4 linked regions of the Homo sapiens genome follow. The protein of the gene in region 1 purifies or fractionates together with the protein of each later gene. This does not show direct contact. Each region holds a gene or a part of one and is shown on either strand. Other genes may lie near its edges.

Region 1 (4,853 bases):
GCTCCAAACTGCTCTGCTCATCACTTCCCATGGAAAACCATGAAGCCTGACTAAAAAGTTTGTACTTTTATCTGCTAACACTGTTTAGCTACTGGCAATTGCTGAGCAAAGGAGAAATAAGATTTAGGAAGTTGACTCTGGTGGTGTGTTGTGATGAAAGATCTGCTGCCACATGGACTCTGATGATACACACTGTTTTGGGACATTCTAAATGGACTCTATGTTTTAAGGTATGTTAGTTGAAAAATACAATGAAAAAATTTTGGAAGATCACTTTCCTGTAGAGTACCCAAGAGGTGAGTCATCCATAAAACCTGGGAAAGTATTGGAACTGGCTACCAAAGCCAGAAAGACTTGTTGGTGCCCTGAGCCCAGGACTTGCCAATCGTTGCTTCTGTCTTATAGCAGGGAGCTAGAGGAGGCTGACAGAAAACAGGGATTTGGCTGGATCTAGTGGCTCACACCTGTAGTCCCCAGCACCTTGGGAGGCCAAGGCAGAGGATCACTGGAGCCCAGGAGTTCAAGACCAGCCTGGGCAATATAGTGAGACCCCCAGCTCTAAACAAAAAGAGAGAGAGAGAGAACAGAGAGATGGTTAGGGACATAGAGGGACACCTGAGCATTGGGGTGGGAAGACTTGGAAGGTCCCTTTCTGACTTTGTGTCTAGAGAAAGATGGTTCCTGCTTTTGAGGCCATAGGGCTTCCAGTGGGACCAGCCTAAAATGCCAGTGGGGAAGCCAATGTTTTCTGAAGAGGATAGAGCAGTCTTAACAATAGGTTAGGGGCAAAAGAGATTATAGATTAATCAAACAGCACAAATAGAAGTGGATCAAAGCAAGGGTTGGACCTAGGGGGCCGGAGCCATGGAGACTTAGAAAAGAAGCAGAGTTGCTTTTATTCCCTAAGGATGGCCTTATGTTTAGATCAATAGTTCTCAAACTTTAACATCCGTCAGAACCACCTGGAAAGGTAGTTAGTTCACAGGTTATCAGGCCCTTCCCCTGGAAATTCTGATTCAGTAGATCTGGGCTAGGGCCTGAGAACTGACATTTCTAGCAAGTCCCTGGGGATGCAGATGTACTGGTCTGGGGATCACACCTCGAGAACTATTAGTTAGGGTAGTGGTTTTCAACTACTACCCTAGACTCAGACGCTATACTATCTGGAGGCATTTTTGGTTGTTACAGTTGGGGGTAGGGGATGGGGAGGGATACATGCTCCTGATATCTAATGTGTAGAAGCCAAAGATGATTCTAAATATCCTACAAAGCACAGCCCCTGGCAACAAAGAATTATCTTGCTCAAAATGTTAATAGTGCAGAGAATGAGAAACCCTAGTTTAGAGAAAACATCTTTAGGGGCAATATGTGGAAATGGAGAGTGGGTTAGAGTGGTTTTAGAGAAATGTAGCTGTGGGCTAGAGGGGAATGTGGGAGGTGGCATCCTGGAGATAAGATTGTGAGGAAATCTTGATTGGGGTAGAGATCCCATCAGACCTAGGACCAGTACAAACTAAAAAGCTACCTCAAGATATACATTTTAGCCCACTGTCAAGCATCCATTCTTGAGAGCCAGACAAGGCTGTTAAAAAAATTAGGTATAAATTTGCACTTGGTTGATTAACTAATTGCTGTGGGTTGAGGGGTCTTTATTGTTCAGATTTCCTTAAGCTGCAGAGTAGAGTGTCTCTTTGACAATCTATAACTGTATCTTTACTGACTCAAGGGGGAAGCATTCTACTCTTCTTTACTCTTGGGGTGGCAGGAGCAGTGGTGCCCCCAGTGGTTAGGCGTGTTAGTGGTAGTGACCTGGCGTGAGCACAGGGTCTGACCACCTGAGCAGGGGACCGCATCGTGCTGAGCAGATTAATCCCTTTCTTTCTGGGTGATTTTTTTGATGCCATATTTACCTTGAACTGAAGATTGGATAGACCAATCTTTCAATTTGAAGCCAAAAGACTACTCAAAGTATTAGCCTAGCTGCTATTTGTGCAGGTGCTCTTAGAGAGAGGCAGTCTCATGTACAGAGACTGTGTAGGGTGGCTGGTAAGAGTATGGATTAGCTCTGCTACTCATTAATAGTATAACTTTTTTATAGGCAAGTTATATAACTTTTCTGTGCCTCAGTTTTCTTATCTCTAAAATGGGGATAATAACACCTCATTGGATTGTTTGAGGATTAAATAAGGTAATATAGTTTCCTCAGGAAAATGCTCGATACGTCCTAAGGACTGTATACATGTTAGCCACCATCATCGTTATCATTATCATCATCATCCTGTGTAAGGAGGGATCGATATCAATGAAACATTTCAACAAAAGAGTTAAGAGGACTCAGTGATTTGAAAGGGTCTGATGTAATTCCAAGGCTTCAGTCTCATTTACTGGGAGCTGTTTGGGAGTAAGAAAAAATTGAGCTTCATCTTGGATATTTTGATTTTGAGATTATTCATCATACATTAAAAATGCCTCAGAGTCAGTTAGAAATATGGACTTGAGGCTGGGCGCGGTGGCTCACGCCTATAATCCCAGCACTTTGGGAGGCTGAGGCAGGTGGATCACAAGGCCAGGAGTTCAAGACCAGCCTGGCTAACATGGTGAAACCCCGTCTCTGCTAAAAATACACAAATCAGCTGGGTGTGGTGTCGTGTGCCTGTAATCCCAGCTACTTGGGAGGCTGAGACACAAGAATCGCTTGAACCCAGGAGGCAGAGGTTGCAGTGAGCCAAGATCGCACTACTGCACTCCAGCCTGGCAACAGAGCAAGACTCCATCTCAAAAAAAAAAAAAAAAAAAGAAAGAAAGAAAGAAAAGAAATATGGACTTGAAATATTGGGCTGAAATTATAGATCTGAGTATCAATAACAAAGATGAGGTTGAGAGTCAAGGAAATTCACGTAGAGAAAATGTAACTTACTTCATACCCAGCATTTTTATACATGTTCTAATTTCATTTCATACTATTTTAGATAGTATTATTCTCATTTTAAAGCTGAATAACCAACTAGTGAGGTTTAATAACTTGTTTGAGATTTCATAGCAGGTAAAATGATTAGAATATGAATTCATCCATTTATCTATCCAACAGACTTTTTTTTTTTTTTTTTTTTTTTTAGTAGAGACGGGGTTTCACCGTGTTAGCCAGGATGGTCTCGATCTCCTGACCTCGTGATCCGCCCGCCTCGGCCTCCCAAAATGCTGGGATTACAGGCGTGAGCCACCGCGCCCAGCCTTTTTTTTTTTTTTTTTTTGAGGTAGAGTATCCCTCTGCTGCCCAGGCAGGAGTGCAGTGGTACAATCGCTGCAGCCTTGACCTCCTGGGCTCAAGTCATCCACCCACCTCAGCCCCTCCCAAGTAAGCTGGGATCACAGACATATGCCACCAAGTCTGGCTAACTTTTTTTTTTTTTCTCGAGATAGAGTCTTGCTCTGTTGCCTAGGCTGGAGCACAATGGTGTGATCTCGGCTCACTGCAACCTCTGCCTCCTGGGTTCCAGTGATTCTCCTGCCTCAGCCTTCTGAATAGCTGGGATTACAGGTGCGTGCCACCATGCCCAGATAAGTTTTTGTATTTTTAGTGGACATGGGGTTTCACCATGTTGGTCAGGTTGGTCTCGAACACCTAACCTCATGATTCACCCTCCTCAGCCTCCTGAAGTGCTGGGATTACAGGCGTGAGCCACTGCTCCAAGCCAAGTCCGGCTAATTTTTTTTTTTTCTGAGATGGAGTCTTGCTCTGTTGCCCAGGCTGGAGTGCAATGGCATGATCTTGGCTCACTGCAACCTCCGCCTCCTGGGTTCAAGCGATTCTCCGATTCTCCTGCCTCAGCCTCCTGAGTAGCTGGGATTACGGGAGCCCACCATCACACCCAGCTAATTTTTGTATTTTTTTTTTTGAGACAGAGTTTCATTCTTATTGCCCAGGCTTGAGTGCAATGGCGCGATCTTGGCTCACAGCAACCTCCGCCTCCCAGGTTCAAGCCATTCTCCTGCCTCAGCCTCCGGAGTAGCTGGGATTACAGGCATGCGCCACCACACCCGGCTAATTTTGTATTTTTAGTAGAGACAGGGTTTCTCCATGTTGCTCAGGCTGGTCTCGAACTCCGGACCTCAGGTGATCCACCCGCCTCAGCCTCCCAAAGTGCTGGGATTACAGGCGTGAGCCACCGTGCCCAGCTAATTTTTGTATTTTTCATAGAGACAGGGTTTCACCATGTTGGCCAGGCTGGTCTTGAACTCCTGACCTCATGATCTGCCCGCCTTGACCTCCCAAAGTCCTGAGATTACAGATGTGAGCCTCCGTGCCCAGGCCAAGTCTGGCTAATTTTTAAAAAAATTTTGTAGAGTTGGGTCCTCTCTGTTTTGCCCAGTCTTGTCTCAAACTCCTGGGCTCAAGGAATCCTCCTGCGTTGGCCTCTGAAAATGAAAATGTTGGGATTACAGGCGTGAGCCCCCTGTGCCTGGCTGCCTTTTTTTTTTTTTTTTTTTAAAGGCAGAGTCTCACTCCATCGCCCAGGCTGAAGTGCAGTGGCGTGATCTCTGCTCACTGCAACCTCTGCCTCTTGAGTTCAAGCGATTCTTCTACCTCAGCTTCCCAAGTAGCTGGGATTACGGGAGCCCACCAACACACCCAGCTAATTTTTGTATTTTTAGTAGAGACGGGTTTCACCAGGTTGGCCAGGCTGTCTGGAATTCCTGACCTCAGGTGATCCACCCTCCTTGGCCTCCCAAAGAGCTGGGATTACAAGTGTGAGCCACTGTGCCCAGCCTGACTTGTTTTTTATAATGCCTTTTTTTTTTTTTTTTGAGACGGAGTCTTGCTCTGTCGCCCAGGCTGGAGTGTAGTGGCGTCA
Region 2 (4,853 bases), on another chromosome or scaffold:
AACAAGCATTAGAGGGATATTTGCCCTTCAGCAGGAAGGAATTCCGTGAACGAGGAGGGGGGAGGGGGGAAGATCTGTAGATTTTTCAAATAAAAAGTCAGTTGTGTTTATCTCACAACTTACCTCTTGGGTAGGGGGCAGGGATTTGCTGTGGGATGGTGATGGAGGTAAAGACAAGGAAGAAGGAAAAGGCCCTTGGAAACTCCAGACTCCAGGACAGGACAGGGAGGGAAGTGGCTGCGCAGCACTGCGTCCCCGCCCCAAGCCCCGCGCGCCTGGCAATCGCGTGCCCACCGCCGGAGCGCGGCGTCCCCGTGCAGTCCTGGCAACCTGTCACCGAGGAGGACGTGACTCGGAGCTGCCTCCGCTTTCTCCAAGCCATATTCCTTTAAGATGATGTAATAGTCATTTCCCTGGATGGTTTCTTGCCTGCACTGCTGAAACAACAGCATCCGAACTGCACTGGGAACTGTGGAACCACCCAGCTCCGCCGCCAGAGAAGCCGGAGCCCCGGGCCCCCCGCCGGCATCTCTGCGCTGCGTTGGCCTCTGGCTCGCACCGGCTCCCACCTGGCTGGGAACATGGGAGTCCGTTTGCCCTTGCCGGCAGGTGGGGTGGCTACCTGGGACCCTAGCAGGGCACATCTCTCCATCTTTCTGCTTCTGGGCTTTCTGAAAAGCTTCTAAGTCCTGGTACCTCTTGCAACTCTCTTCTAAGGATCCTTTCCAAAGATTTCTTTTTCCATTTTTCTTTTCCCCTGGGGAAGCTTTGGTTGAATATTTTCTCTGCTTTACTTCTTCAACCCAACCTCCTCTCATCAGGGCTTAACTTTTTTTGCGACTTGTTTTAACTTAAGATACGGAATGAACACATATGTACCTACATACATACATAAATACAAATAGGCATTTATATAAATGCATATATATAATAGTTATTTTCCAAGAGCACACCTCTCTGGCACTTTTCATTGATACCTCGGTCGTTTACCTGTTTGGGATTTGACAAGATCCAGACTCAGTTTGGCTGTGGATTTTGATTGCTTTACAAATGGTTATTATTATTTTTTTCACAAGAACTGGGTCTCCAGCACTCACTAAGGTAAGCTCTAAGACTTATTGCTTTTCCTGTCCAGCTGAAAAAAAAATTCCCATTTGGAAGTTGAAAATTGCATGTTTCTTTTTAATGTAGACTTACAAGTAAATTGTTTTTCATACTAATTGCTGGAGACAGAGGCTTATAGATAAACATGTAGGCACAAAATAGCATGAGAGAAGCTATGATTTAATTGAAGAATGGCTGAGATCAGTAGTTCCAGAGCTGCTTATGTAAAATAATCTCTCTCTCCCTCCCTCTGTTTTTCCCTCCCTCCCTCTCTCTCTCTCCAGAGGACTCTTTTTCTGACTCATTCCAGGTTTGAGGAAATAATTTTTTCTCTTTTCCTTCAGACGGACATCTGAGTAACTGGGGAATTGGCCTGCCTTGCATGTGAGCTTGATGGAAGATTGGATATAGACGAGTTGATTATATTTTATGAAGTAGCAGCTCACTACCATCCACCATCCAGGGTTTAAACTACTTTTTCAGCATCACTTCACCTGTGGACTCTTATACATTTTGATTTCTTGGGGGAAAAATACTGGGATAAGAGGAGGTCATTTTTTAATAAGTTAGCATCCTTTTCCCTTTCTTACAAGTTGATCCAAAGGATAAGGCTGTGACTCCATTGGATTGCACCTTTAAATCAAAATAGCAGCAGCAGAAGAAAGGGACAATGGCTCTGAGTGGAAACTGTAGTCGTTATTATCCTCGAGAACAAGGGTCCGCAGTTCCCAACTCCTTCCCTGAGGTGGTAGAGCTGAATGTCGGGGGTCAAGTTTATTTTACTCGCCATTCCACATTGATAAGCATCCCTCATTCCCTCCTGTGGAAAATGTTTTCCCCAAAGAGAGACACGGCTAATGATCTAGCCAAGGACTCCAAGGGAAGGTTTTTCATTGACAGAGATGGATTCTTGTTCCGTTATATTCTGGACTATCTCAGGGACAGGCAGGTGGTCCTGCCTGATCACTTTCCAGAAAAAGGAAGACTGAAAAGGGAAGCTGAATACTTCCAGCTCCCAGACTTGGTCAAACTCCTGACCCCCGATGAAATCAAGCAAAGCCCAGATGAATTCTGCCACAGTGACTTTGAAGATGCCTCCCAAGGAAGCGACACAAGAATCTGCCCCCCTTCCTCCCTGCTCCCTGCCGACCGCAAGTGGGGTTTCATTACTGTGGGTTACAGAGGATCCTGCACCTTGGGCAGAGAGGGACAGGCAGATGCCAAGTTTCGGAGAGTTCCCCGGATTTTGGTTTGTGGAAGGATTTCCTTGGCAAAAGAAGTCTTTGGAGAAACTTTGAATGAAAGCAGAGACCCTGATCGAGCCCCAGAAAGATACACCTCCAGATTTTATCTCAAATTCAAGCACCTGGAAAGGGCTTTTGATATGTTGTCAGAGTGTGGATTCCACATGGTGGCCTGTAACTCATCGGTGACAGCATCTTTCATCAACCAATATACAGATGACAAGATCTGGTCAAGCTACACTGAATATGTCTTCTACCGTAAGTACAAAGGGTTGTTTTAATTTTTTATGTGTGTCAATGCTCTTCACAAATGTATATGGTCTGTGTGTTCTCTCCATACCTAAGGAACATGGTTTGGAATTCTTTTTAACTCTTGAGTTGTAGTTAGAGGATTAGAGGTTATAATTCAGCTCTCATGTCTAACCTAAGGCAACTTTTATCCAATGAGGTCACAGAATATTCAAAGGCCTCCAAAATAATAAAATGCAAATGATATTGGTATATGCAATATGTAAAATGGAACAAGCATGTATGTCTTTTTGTTTTTGCCAGATATTGAATTGAGAAAATAAGGTTGATTATTACATCTTGGCTGTTTGTCCACAGGAGCTTGGTATACTCAGTGGGTGAATTACTGCTGTCTATTCATTTAGCTGGACTTTGAGGTCTATTAAGCTGGTTGCTGAAGACTTGCTTTCATCAGGGGCTTTGAAAACACAAATGGATGTTGCAATGAATAATGTGGTCTTGGCTAGATGGCAGTACAGACTGCTGAAAGGCCCCCTGCTCCCCCCAAGTCTAAATTTTGCTTTTAAGGGTTTTACAAATCTGCTGTTTGATTCTGAAGCCTTTTGTACTGAGACCTGAGTTGCACTGCAGACTTAATTAAGCTGAACTTCATTTAAGATCTATGTAAAAGGAACTAGATCCTTCAGAATTGTCAATCACATTTAAACACCTTCAGACAGCTGAGGTGGTAGAATTACTGACATAAAAGGAAGCCAGAGAGGGAAGAAATGAAACAATGATACTGAAGCCTTTTAAGTAAGGGGTTCTTAGAGGTCAGTTCATTTGCTTAAATGAAGATACCCTGCAGATTCCTCATTTTATGATATGGCATTATTCTAAACTATAAACTGTGAGCCATTGATCCCTGAAAGGAAAAGAGTAAATCAGCCTGCACTCTTTGGTACTTGATTTTAACTGCCGATTTTCAACAGGCCCAGGAGTTGGGTGAAGTAAATTCCACAAGAAATATGTTTCCAGTGTTAACATTTGATTTCCTCTATTCTTATTCTAAAACAAATCCAGAATTCAGGATTAAAATATCTAAATTTCTTTAAACATAAAAGTAGGACTGAATTTCTTGGACTGGTTTTTTTCCTTAGTTATGTTTAATCATTTGGCAATGGTGCCGGGAACCTTGGTAGAGAGGCTAGTGGGAAGCCAAGTCATTCTCTACTAAGCTATCACACATTTGGTTAAGACACATGTATTGCATAGCCAGAACAACCTGTGGAAAAAAACGAAATCAGTAATCAGTTCAGGAGTATATTGATGTGCGATAACAAACATCATTTGGTTCATTAATCCTATCTGTGGCCTTTATCTACAATCTATATCTTTCTTTATGCTAGAGCTTAGTGGACAGGTATTGTCTTCTTCCTTTTGGTAAATTTCCCACTAGTGTAGAGATAAGATTCCGGCTTTTTAGCTTTCTATAAAGGAATATGACATTATCTATAATTCTGAAGCAGAAATATCTTCTCCAAACTTTTTGGAGAAGTACATCTTAAAGATAGTTCCAATGCAGCTTTGTAATATTTACCATGTTCTCCGATTTTGAATATTTGAAAACATAGCATCGTAAGAAGCTTCAACCAAATAAATGGAAACATACCAGTTATACCCTCCAAAAAGACCACATTGGATTTATAGTCACTTGCTTACATAAATGAGACCCACACACTGAAATTTATTTGTCTACCAGTGGCATTTCTGTGTTCATCAAAGGCTCATCTGTCCAACACGATTTCCCTTTAGATTTATCTGGACAGGCTCCATTCTCCTGACTATGTCGTTTCTTCTTTCTTTGTTGAATTGCTGAGAGATTGCTGAGGAACAGTTTGTTCTCCATCTCTCCATGGACAGGCTAGCACAAATGCACAGGAACTTCATACCAGCAGCATATATCTTGCAAATGATATACTTCCCCTTTGTACCCACCATCTAGAGCTAAGTGTTAACTCTTCCTCTGTCTTAGGACCAATAAAACTGACAGCTGGCTTTCTAGGGTGCATAACAGCTTCCGTGCAGCTGCTTAGCCATAATTATTTAATTAGAAGCTGCCAACTGTGCCTATATAAGCATTAATTCATCAAGCTGTTGTGCTCGGGTTAATGGGACGAAACCATGGGAGATGCTCTAAAGAAGGGAGTTGGCTGCATGCAAAGATGCTTTTCACAAAGGAACTCAACTTCCTCCTGGGCTTAGGGGGAAATATAT
Region 3 (4,853 bases), about 96 Mb from region 1:
TTTTATTTCCCACTTTCATAACCAACTCAGAAATTTCTCATCCCTATAGGTAGCATCACTGTCCTTCCTGTCATGATGCTCACAGCCTCAGGACAACCTTTGGTCTTGCTCTTATTTATCACTTACCATCTCCTGTTGAATCTGTCCATTCTATCCCTGTAATCCATCATACCTCTTTCTTTTCCTAGTGCCACTACTCCCAGTTCAGAGTCACAAAAGGTTGTCCCTTTTGATATCACCCACTCGTTCATCTACTATTTATTGAGTTTCTTCTTTATCCCTTTGTCAGAGACCAGGGACACAAAGATGAATGGCTTCCTTGCCCTCAAGTAGTCAAGTCTAGTATGACATAGGCTTATCAACAAATATTCACAGTATATATTCCTAAAACTGTTTTGAAAAAAAGTCACTATATTATCTTCAGATAATGTGCTTTTATTATTCCCAGCTATAAATACTAGAAAAGTAAGCTAAATAACTAGCTGTGTTTTGCCTTTTTCTGGCTTATTTTACCCAAATTAACAGTGTAAGCTTAGATGTACCTTCAAAACCTAAACCTGCATTCTCTAATTTCTGTGTCATCCTTGATGCCTAGAGCTGTCATTGACAAGTGTCTGTTTTAGAACTAATACACTTCAAGAACAACATTCTGCTCACTGAGCAGTTCCATTATTTGTCATGAAAGAGCTGCACATTCAGATCTGTATTTGTATTTGTATCTGTATATACTTCCTAAATTCAGATTTAATGGTCTGACTTTCCTTCTGATGAACAGCAGCCAACCCATCATCCCCAGACAATGAATGGAAACAGTGGTTTTGTGGATCTTCTTCCTAAATCTGTTGAGGAAAGGACATTTTCAAAGTAAGGAGTGAGAAGGAAGATGAATTGTTTATGGGAGATCATGATATAAAAACCATGTTGTTCTGTTTTATTTCTAGCTACAAGAAAACACATGAAACCCTGAGTCACGCAGGGCAAAAGGCAACTGCAGCTTTCAGCAACGTTGGAACGGCCATCAGCAAGAAGTTCGGAGACATGAGGTACTGTGGGAAAATACCATGGGAACGGCGCTAAGCCCTTGGCTTTCCGATTGAAGGGAGCACTAGCTATTAGCTGCTCATCTCAACATATGTATTTTTTTATTTTAATGGATAAAAATGTTATATGGCTGATATGATTGATGACTAAGATAAATTTTCACACTGGGACATTTTCTGCCTGAAGGTCAGGCTTAGGTGGCCTGGTCCCAGAGTTGCTGTTTCTACTAGGACCCGACCTGGTAAAAATAGAAGATACAGGGTAGTGAGGCAGATTTGAAAAGAATGCAGCATGTGCAAATTCTTACTAGCTGTAATATAAATGATAAATTAAAACATGCATTTAGTGGAATGCACTCCCATAAACTATTCTAGATTGCATATTTGTATACATCCATCTAGTATATTTTTTCTGTGTTAAATAGGTACATATTTATCCTTTTATTCCATAAAGGTACCACACATATACACTTCTGGTAGTTTTCTTTCTTCATTTTCTAACTATTTTGTGAGTATGTTAAATATTTATTGCACCTTCATTTTTAATGAATTTATCTCCCAGTGCGTAGCTATAGCAATGCTTTTAGATAAGTAACCTTGCACATTTTCATTATTTTCAATATTTCACTGTTACATAAAATAAGGGTGACCATCAAGGTTGATTTTGACTTGAGAACCAAAAGTTCTCACTGGAGGCACCAGGAAAAAAAAAATGTAGTATTGCCCATAGTTTTTCATATTATATACAATATTATATACAATATATTATATACCATATTATATAGAGGTATTACTCTTAGTTTTTGCTTATTTAAATACCAGTCATAGTTTTATTTTGCATTTGGCTGATATGCCTTGGAGGATTTTTCTTTAGAAATCAGTTTCATTTTTCCCTCTATTCTTTAAAAACTTTTCGAGCACATTTTACATTTCTTCTTTAAAAAAAAAAAATCTCTGCGTATTTATTTTACTGGATTCTTAAACTGTTACTTTTTTATTAAAAAGAAAAAGCTTTGGGCTGGGCACAGTGGCTCATGCCTGTAATCCCGTCATTTTGGGAGACTGAGGCAGGTGGATCCCTTGAGGTCAGGAGTTAGAGACCAGCCTGACCAACATGGTGAGACCCTGTCTCCATTAAAAAATATATATATATACACAAAAATTAGCCAGGCATGGTTGTGTGTGCCTGTAGTCCCAGCTGCTGAGGAGGCTGAGGCAGGAGAATCACTTGAACCCAGGAGGCAGAGGTTGCAGTGAGCCCAGATCACGCCACTGCACTCCAGCCTAGGCAATAGAGTGAGACTCTGTCTCAAAAAAAAAAAAAAAAAAAGAAGGAAAAGCTTTGACACTGAGAGGCAAATATCTTCCTAACTTTACACTTATAGATACATCTTTATAAATTATATTATTAAATTTTATTTACTTCAAAAATTGCTGGACTGTCCACAATATTCATTCACTATTTTAACAACTAGGCATTCACAAGGACATGTGCATGAATCTGAGTACATTGTTTTATCTTCATTTTTACTAATGCCACAATAATAAAAAGTAATTGAAATTCTTCAGAAGCAGGTGTGATAAACAGGTAAACCTTCTGGATTATTAATTACCCCTAATTTTATTACAAATAAAATTTGTAATAATTTTAACGGCGTTATAACATTTATCTAAACTAATTAAATAATCCTTTAAAATAGGAAACCCTCTATAACCTGTTATACCCAAGAAAACATATTTTCCCATGTTTATAAAATTGATTCTCTTCATACTGTGTTGAAATCTTTCACTTGAACCCTGGGAACTCCAGCATGACACTGCTAACTAGAATAGTGCTTCTGCATCTTTAGGAGATCTTACAAACACCTCTGAAGCTTGTTTAGAATACATATTCTTAGGTTGCACCTCTCAGAGGTTGTGCTCAGTAAGTCTGAGGTGGAGTCTAGGAATCTGCATTTATAACAAGCTTCCAGATAATTTGGCTTCAGAGGGTCAGTTTATGAGGAAGACAGACATAGCTTAGCTCACCTGTATCTGGGGTTTTCACTAATAAAATGGAGATAAGAATAACAATGTCACTGGACTGTTATAAAAGTAGCAGAAGAAAGTCTGACATGTATTATGCACTCAAAAAATTGCAGTTTTTTATCTTTAAGTGACCAGCTCAGTTACAAGATGGCCCCACATGGTAGAAATTAGGGAGAGTACATTAACAGGAGCCCACTGTATTTCATAAAGGCCCTGCTCATTGTTTTTCCCAATAGTGAAGAATGAAGACTGTGTTTCACATATGCAATATGTTGGCATTCATATTCAAACACTAATTGGGTACAATGTCAAGGTTGTATTGACTGCCTTTCCTCCCGTTTCAATGTGGCTTTGTCTAGTATAGTGGATGGCCTATTTTCCAGGACTTCCAAACTTTCCATTTGTTATTATCCCATGTAGAGGGTACAACATTTTCATTATAAACTGTGGCTAAAAATATTGGAAAATACAATCTGTGTTGCTAGATAATCAAATACAATCCTGAAATATTTTGAAGAGTTTGAAAATTTCAGAGCTTTATTTATATAATATTTTATGTGTATATTTCTCTCAAACTATATCTAACATTTGTATATAAATGAGAATAACTCTTTGTGAAAGCAACAAGTTTTACAAAGATTTTTACTTTTAAATTATGCCCAAACAAGTAATATAAATAAAAGTCATTTTGAAAGTGTTTAAACTTAATAAAAGACCTTAAATGGGAAAAAATAGTAAGCTTTGATTGTTTGTTCAAAAACTAATGTGCCAATTTGTAAATATGGGGAATATGTTAAAATTTGGTCACAGACCTTTTATTTTAAACTTCTTTTTGGTTAAAAGTGTCATATTAGTCTACATTTTTATTAGTTACACTATAACATTTTTGTGCATTCTGGTAACAAATTTCTGAATGTATTCAAAAACATTACCAGCAAAATTCAGATAGCTTGGAAGAACAACAGTACCTCTCAGTTTTTCTTTAAAATAACTCCAAATTAATATTTACAGATTTTGTAAAACCTAGAATTTGGGCCTTTTAATAGCTGAAAAAAAAGCTTTATGTTAAGATTTAATTTGTATGTTTTGTAAAAATAAGTTATATTTTTCTGAGCTAAGTAAGATTCTCATTTTAACCTGATTGTCATGGAATTGCCCACTCTCTTTCTCCATCCATAAAATAACATTGTTAATACCCACTTAACCAAAATATTTCCTGTGAAGTTAAAATGAGGTCACACTTAGGAAAGTACTCAGAAGAAATCCAAGCGGTTGGAATCATTTTTCTAATAACATTGGCATCTTCTGGGAACTTCTCAGTTAATTTGTTCAAACTGATCCACTGGGGACAAAATGTTTGGAGAAGGCATGTCATTTTATTACAGTCCAATCATTGTTATATACTTATAGGAATAACAGAAGCAAAACTTGAGTTGGTAAAATGATTTGTCAGAGACATTAAAAAGTCAGTGTAATCAAGAGTGGTAAATGAAGCTACCCTGTCTGTGCTCTGGGGCCCTTGAAAGGGGACCACCAAGGGCAGTGCAGTGTTTCTCTGCCTCCTGTTTGCTAACTCTGCTCCTGCTCTTCTCTCCTGTGCTTCCGGGCTGCAGGTCTCACTCCATCGGGTAAGCGCCACAGGGCTGCGTGTGGGGCTTTCCCCACTCCCTTGCTGCCCCTTTGCTTTCCAGGGCTCCCTGTTTCTTTCACACTGTGCCTGAACCAACAAAACTACACTCTGTTTTCCAGACAGTTCCCGTGACCAGGAAGATAGTTTATAGGGCA
Region 4 (4,853 bases), on another chromosome or scaffold:
TCTCCTGCCTCAGCCTCCCGAGTAGCTGGGACTACAGGCGCCCGCCACCACGCCCGGCTAATTTTTTGTATTTTTAGTCGAGACGGGGTTTCACCGTGTTAGCCAGGATGGTCTGGAAATTTTTACTTAAAAATATTGGACATGGAAAATTAATTGTTTTAAATGGTGAAAGATATTAAAAAGGCATTCTCCCAAATACCTTTGACTTGTTTTCTTAAGAAGTTTAAAATCTCTCTGGAAAAACTAGAGAACACAAGATATTAAGCTACTTCATTTCCTAGAAGAAATTCCATTTGTGTAAAAATGTTTCGTTCTTCAGAAAAAATGGTCCCATAACTTGGAACTTCCTAAGTGGTGAGCCATGATGACACAGAGTGCTGCAAATGAGCTGAAGCCGGCCTCATCAAAGATGTGGATCTCCTCAAGTGTTGGGGTGACCAGGTGGGGCCTGAGTGGTCAGAGCACTCCCACCAGGGTTGATCAGCTTCCTCTGTTTGCTCCATGTGTTGCCATAATGTGAAAAGAAGTGGGAAAGCTCTGCACTAACTAATGCTTTACATGGTATTTGGCTACTTCTTCAAGCAACGATCTCTTAACATCAAGGGCAAGACTTTCTTCCCTTGGTAGTCCACACCCTTGCTCAGATGCAGAAGTGGCTATGTCTTAGAGAGTGCAAACATGTCAAGACAGCTTCTCCAGGGTTCCTGTTCAGCCTCTTAAGATTTTCAAGACCCATATCAAAAGCCTGTCAAGCAGGCTCAGCCATCACCTATAACTGAATAAAGGAAAGGGCTCTGGAAGGTGCTTCCCAATGGAAGATTCTTCACAATGCGACCTTCAAAAGTGGGTCTGCTAACAATGAGTTAATGGGTGCAGCACACCAACATGGCACATGTATACATATGTAACAAACCTGCACGTTGTGCACAAGTACCCTAGAACTTAAAGTATAATAAAAAAAAAAAAAAAGTGGGTCTGGCCATAAAATCAATCCAACAATAGTGGGATGGAGAGGAAGGGAGGTTTTTCTGATGATATTTAATTACATACGTCATTGTTATTGTGATACAGGGGGATTGAGCCTAGTGGTCTTAGTGGTCTAATTGAGCCTAAAAGAAACAGTTCTCAGAAATGACTGCAATTAAGCTTAGTTTTTTCTAAAGTACTGGGGTGCGGGGAGGAGAGGGAGGAGGAGGAATAACCAGAGGAGGGGAAGAGAGAAATTAGGCAGAATAAGAAAAGGGAATTCCCGGGGACTCCTCTGAAGAGCCTTAAGTTTATAATCCATGGGGAACCCGATTCCTTCCACAGGCAAATTATGAACAAAGTGTTTATTGCAGTAAAGGGAAGTTAAACTCTTCAGATCAGAAGCTGAGCCCAACAAGCCAAAGTTGTGTACATGGATATATTATAACCAATGAGGCAGCACAGAGGAGGTTAGAGAAGACATGAAACGGTGCATAAAGACTCTTCTTGAAAGGCTAAGTACATCCCACTATTGTTGGGTTGATTTTATGGCCAGACCCAGTTTTGAAGTTAGCATTGTGAAGAATCATCCATTGGGAATTGGGATGCTCCCTCAAAGACTGAAAGGTGCTTAAGTGCTCACTCTGGAGTGGAACAGATGCTGCTTTTCCTTACCCTTTCTTTCATCCTGTATACAGTGAACAGCATAGTTGATAAATGAGACCAAGGCATGCTCAGAAAGCCACCTCCACAACAGCCTGGAGGCTCACTCAGCACCTCTTCACTCACTCACTCACTCATTCACCATGTTCTTGGTTCTCTCCAGGTCAGTTATGCCTCCTCCAGCAGACTCCTCAGCAACAAGAATCAATTCAAGTCTTTCCTCCGAACCATCCCCAATGATGAGCACCAGGCCACTGCCATGGCAGACATCATCGAGTATTTCCGCTGGAACTGGGTGGGCACAATTGCAGCTGATGACGACTATGGGCGGCCGGGGATTGAGAAATTCCGAGAGGAAGCTGAGGAAAGGGATATCTGCATCGACTTCAGTGAACTCATCTCCCAGTACTCTGATGAGGAAGAGATCCAGCATGTGGTAGAGGTGATTCAAAATTCCACGGCCAAAGTCATCGTGGTTTTCTCCAGTGGCCCAGATCTTGAGCCCCTCATCAAGGAGATTGTCCGGCGCAATATCACGGGCAAGATCTGGCTGGCCAGCGAGGCCTGGGCCAGCTCCTCCCTGATCGCCATGCCTCAGTACTTCCACGTGGTTGGCGGCACCATTGGATTCGCTCTGAAGGCTGGGCAGATCCCAGGCTTCCGGGAATTCCTGAAGAAGGTCCATCCCAGGAAGTCTGTCCACAATGGTTTTGCCAAGGAGTTTTGGGAAGAAACATTTAACTGCCACCTCCAAGAAGGTGCAAAAGGACCTTTACCTGTGGACACCTTTCTGAGAGGTCACGAAGAAAGTGGCGACAGGTTTAGCAACAGCTCGACAGCCTTCCGACCCCTCTGTACAGGGGATGAGAACATCAGCAGTGTCGAGACCCCTTACATAGATTACACGCATTTACGGATATCCTACAATGTGTACTTAGCAGTCTACTCCATTGCCCACGCCTTGCAAGATATATATACCTGCTTACCTGGGAGAGGGCTCTTCACCAATGGCTCCTGTGCAGACATCAAGAAAGTTGAGGCGTGGCAGGTGCGTCCTTCACTTATATAGCAATTTGCTGTATAATAAAGCAGAGTTGGGCTGCAACTCCAGGCAAGAAAAATAGTGGTCATTTGAAAAGGGCAATATTTAAATGAAGCCACTAAATGGAGCTTTGGATTCAAAGTACCTTTTTTAAATCTTGAGCAACTGATTTGAACAAAATTGATAGTAATTTGATTATCTATTTAAAGCCTTGAGTCAACTGTTCTTTAGTCCAGTGATTCAGAATAACTGAAGTATGGTCCCCAAAAGTTTTCAAATATCCCAGAACAGATTTAGTAATGAGTGGGGTATTTTTCTAATGTCTAAATTATCAATATTGTTCCCTTGTGAGTAAGAAGTATTTTTTGAGTACCTATTACATTCCATATACTAAGTGGCATAAAGCTAGTATTATTGTGTTTAGCCACCACTTTTGCCATTACATTACTGACAGCCTATACCAAGCCACCCAGCAGGTCAGCTAAGCACAGCTTAGGACAAAAGCAAATCAAAGACACAGAAAACAAAAACTCTTTGTAAAAAGATTTGATATTGAGTGTTTCAAAAAGAAGCACTGAAGTGGTTATCATAGAAAAAATCAGAACTTAAGAGGAGTTCCCACACTTGTTTAGCCTTGTTTTGTATTTTTGAATTACACACAGGAGAGACATCATAATCTTTTTCATTTCAAGAGCTTATATCCTAAATAGCTGTTCGGGTCTTGCATATGTGCCTTATTTTTTTCAATCAGACCATGTTTCACACTCCTTTTGTATTTTCCTTAGTTCCAAACTGACCTATCAGAGAGATTGCATGACAGTGGAGAGGGCGGGAATTCCTGAATTTGAATGGAATGTGCCAGCCTCCAGCTCCCCCATTTCCTAGCTGTGTGATCTTAGGCAAACCATGGCTGTAAGTCACAGTGTCTCCATCTGTGACACAGACTTAATGTCTAGCTTACTTTCCACTCAATGTTCTTTTGACTTAGGTTCATGACATTAAATGACATGATATATGTAAAAGCAATTTGTAAACTTTCAAGCTCTAAACAGATGTGTGATTATTATAGTAGGATTTCAGTACAGCTCTAATTAATCCATGAATTAGGTAAAAATGATAACTAGAACACCTTTGTATACAGAACCCAACCACCACAAACCCTTTGGGAAGGATACCAAGAAGCAAAAAGCACACAACTTGTATCAGTCACTGTAGAGATTCTCATGAAAGACAAGGAGTGACTGTCTAAGTTGGTCAAATAGGCCAGAATCTTCAAGTTCTCAGCCCTTCTTATATGGGAACCTCTTACCCAACCATCACTGTTGGCTAAAGTTTCTAACTTCTGTGGGGTACTCAGAGCTTCTTTCTTCACACGGAACCCCTACCTTGCCAAGATAGAGGTGCTGTAATAAAGGTCAGGCACTCTAAAGTCTTCAGGAGTGATGATGCTAAGGTATGGGGTTTTAAGTAGGAGGAGTAAGGGAGCAATCTTCTAGGTGGTTGTTACTATTGTCTTTTCTTTCTTACCTCTCACGTCCAATGCAAGGAGGACCTCAGTTCTTGAAAAAACTGCAAGACAAGAGTAGGGTTGAAGGAAAAACAGGCTTCAAGGGGGAAACTTGGCAGTTCTACTCTTCAATGGCTCCTCTTCCAGATAAGGAAATAAAATACAGATGGTCAAGACCAGACCTTGGACCTGTGAGAAAAAAAAAAAAGCCATGACAGGCTACAGTCACAACTGGGACTTTTAGTTGTGTAATAGAAAGCCCTAACCAAATTGGCATAAACAAAAAAAGAGGAAATGTAGTGAGTGGGTCATGTCACTAAAAATCTCAGAAGTGTTCCAGGTACAGCTAGGTATTTTCATCTCATCTTTCTGTTCTTCATTCCCCAGGGTTAGCAATTTTCAGCTTCTGTAGCAGCTTGAAGCTAGGATCTCCTTACTTCCCAAGATATCCTGTAAAAGTTCCAGAAACCACATTTATTGACCATTCCTAAGTCATGGATCCATCCCTGATGCTAGCAGTCCTCCAGACTACATAGACTTAGAGTAAGGGGGGAGTGAATCTCCAGTGGGAAGTCAGGATGCCATTACCAAAAGGAGGAAGAAATAGAAGCAAAGCAGCCAACATTCAAAATGTCCACTACACAGACACTTCACCCAACCATGGCCCAGGTAAAG

Evidence for each region.
Region 2: the proteins of GABBR1 (region 1) and KCTD16 purify together in Homo sapiens (affinity purification with western blotting, with the first as the bait; one study listed by BioGRID). This does not show direct contact.
Region 3: the proteins of GABBR1 (region 1) and TPD52L1 purify together in Homo sapiens (affinity purification with mass spectrometry; one large-scale study listed by BioGRID and IntAct). This does not show direct contact.
Region 4: the proteins of GABBR1 (region 1) and CASR purify together in Homo sapiens (affinity purification with western blotting; one study listed by BioGRID). This does not show direct contact.

What each region holds. Positions count from the first base shown.
Region 1 is NC_000006.12:29,615,245-29,620,097, reverse strand, and holds part of GABBR1 (gamma-aminobutyric acid type B receptor subunit 1 isoform a precursor), read left to right. Parts: intron 1-4,853.
Region 2 is NC_000005.10:144,204,941-144,209,793, forward strand, and holds part of KCTD16 (BTB/POZ domain-containing protein KCTD16), read left to right. Parts: intron 1-450; exon of another isoform or gene 451-1,101; intron 1,102-1,388; exon of another isoform or gene 1,389-1,448; 5' UTR 1,449-1,774; coding exon 1,775-2,606; intron 2,607-4,853. UniProt on the Homo sapiens protein: Auxiliary subunit of GABA-B receptors that determine the pharmacology and kinetics of the receptor response. Increases agonist potency and markedly alter the G-protein signaling of the receptors by accelerating onset and promoting desensitization.
Region 3 is NC_000006.12:125,247,341-125,252,193, forward strand, and holds part of TPD52L1 (tumor protein D53), read left to right. Parts: intron 1-941; coding exon 942-1,043; intron 1,044-4,681; coding exon of another isoform or gene 4,682-4,700; exon of another isoform or gene 4,701-4,853.
Region 4 is NC_000003.12:122,259,736-122,264,588, forward strand, and holds part of CASR (extracellular calcium-sensing receptor isoform 2 precursor), read left to right. Parts: intron 1-1,792; coding exon 1,793-2,677; intron 2,678-4,853. UniProt on the Homo sapiens protein: G-protein-coupled receptor that senses changes in the extracellular concentration of calcium ions and plays a key role in maintaining calcium homeostasis.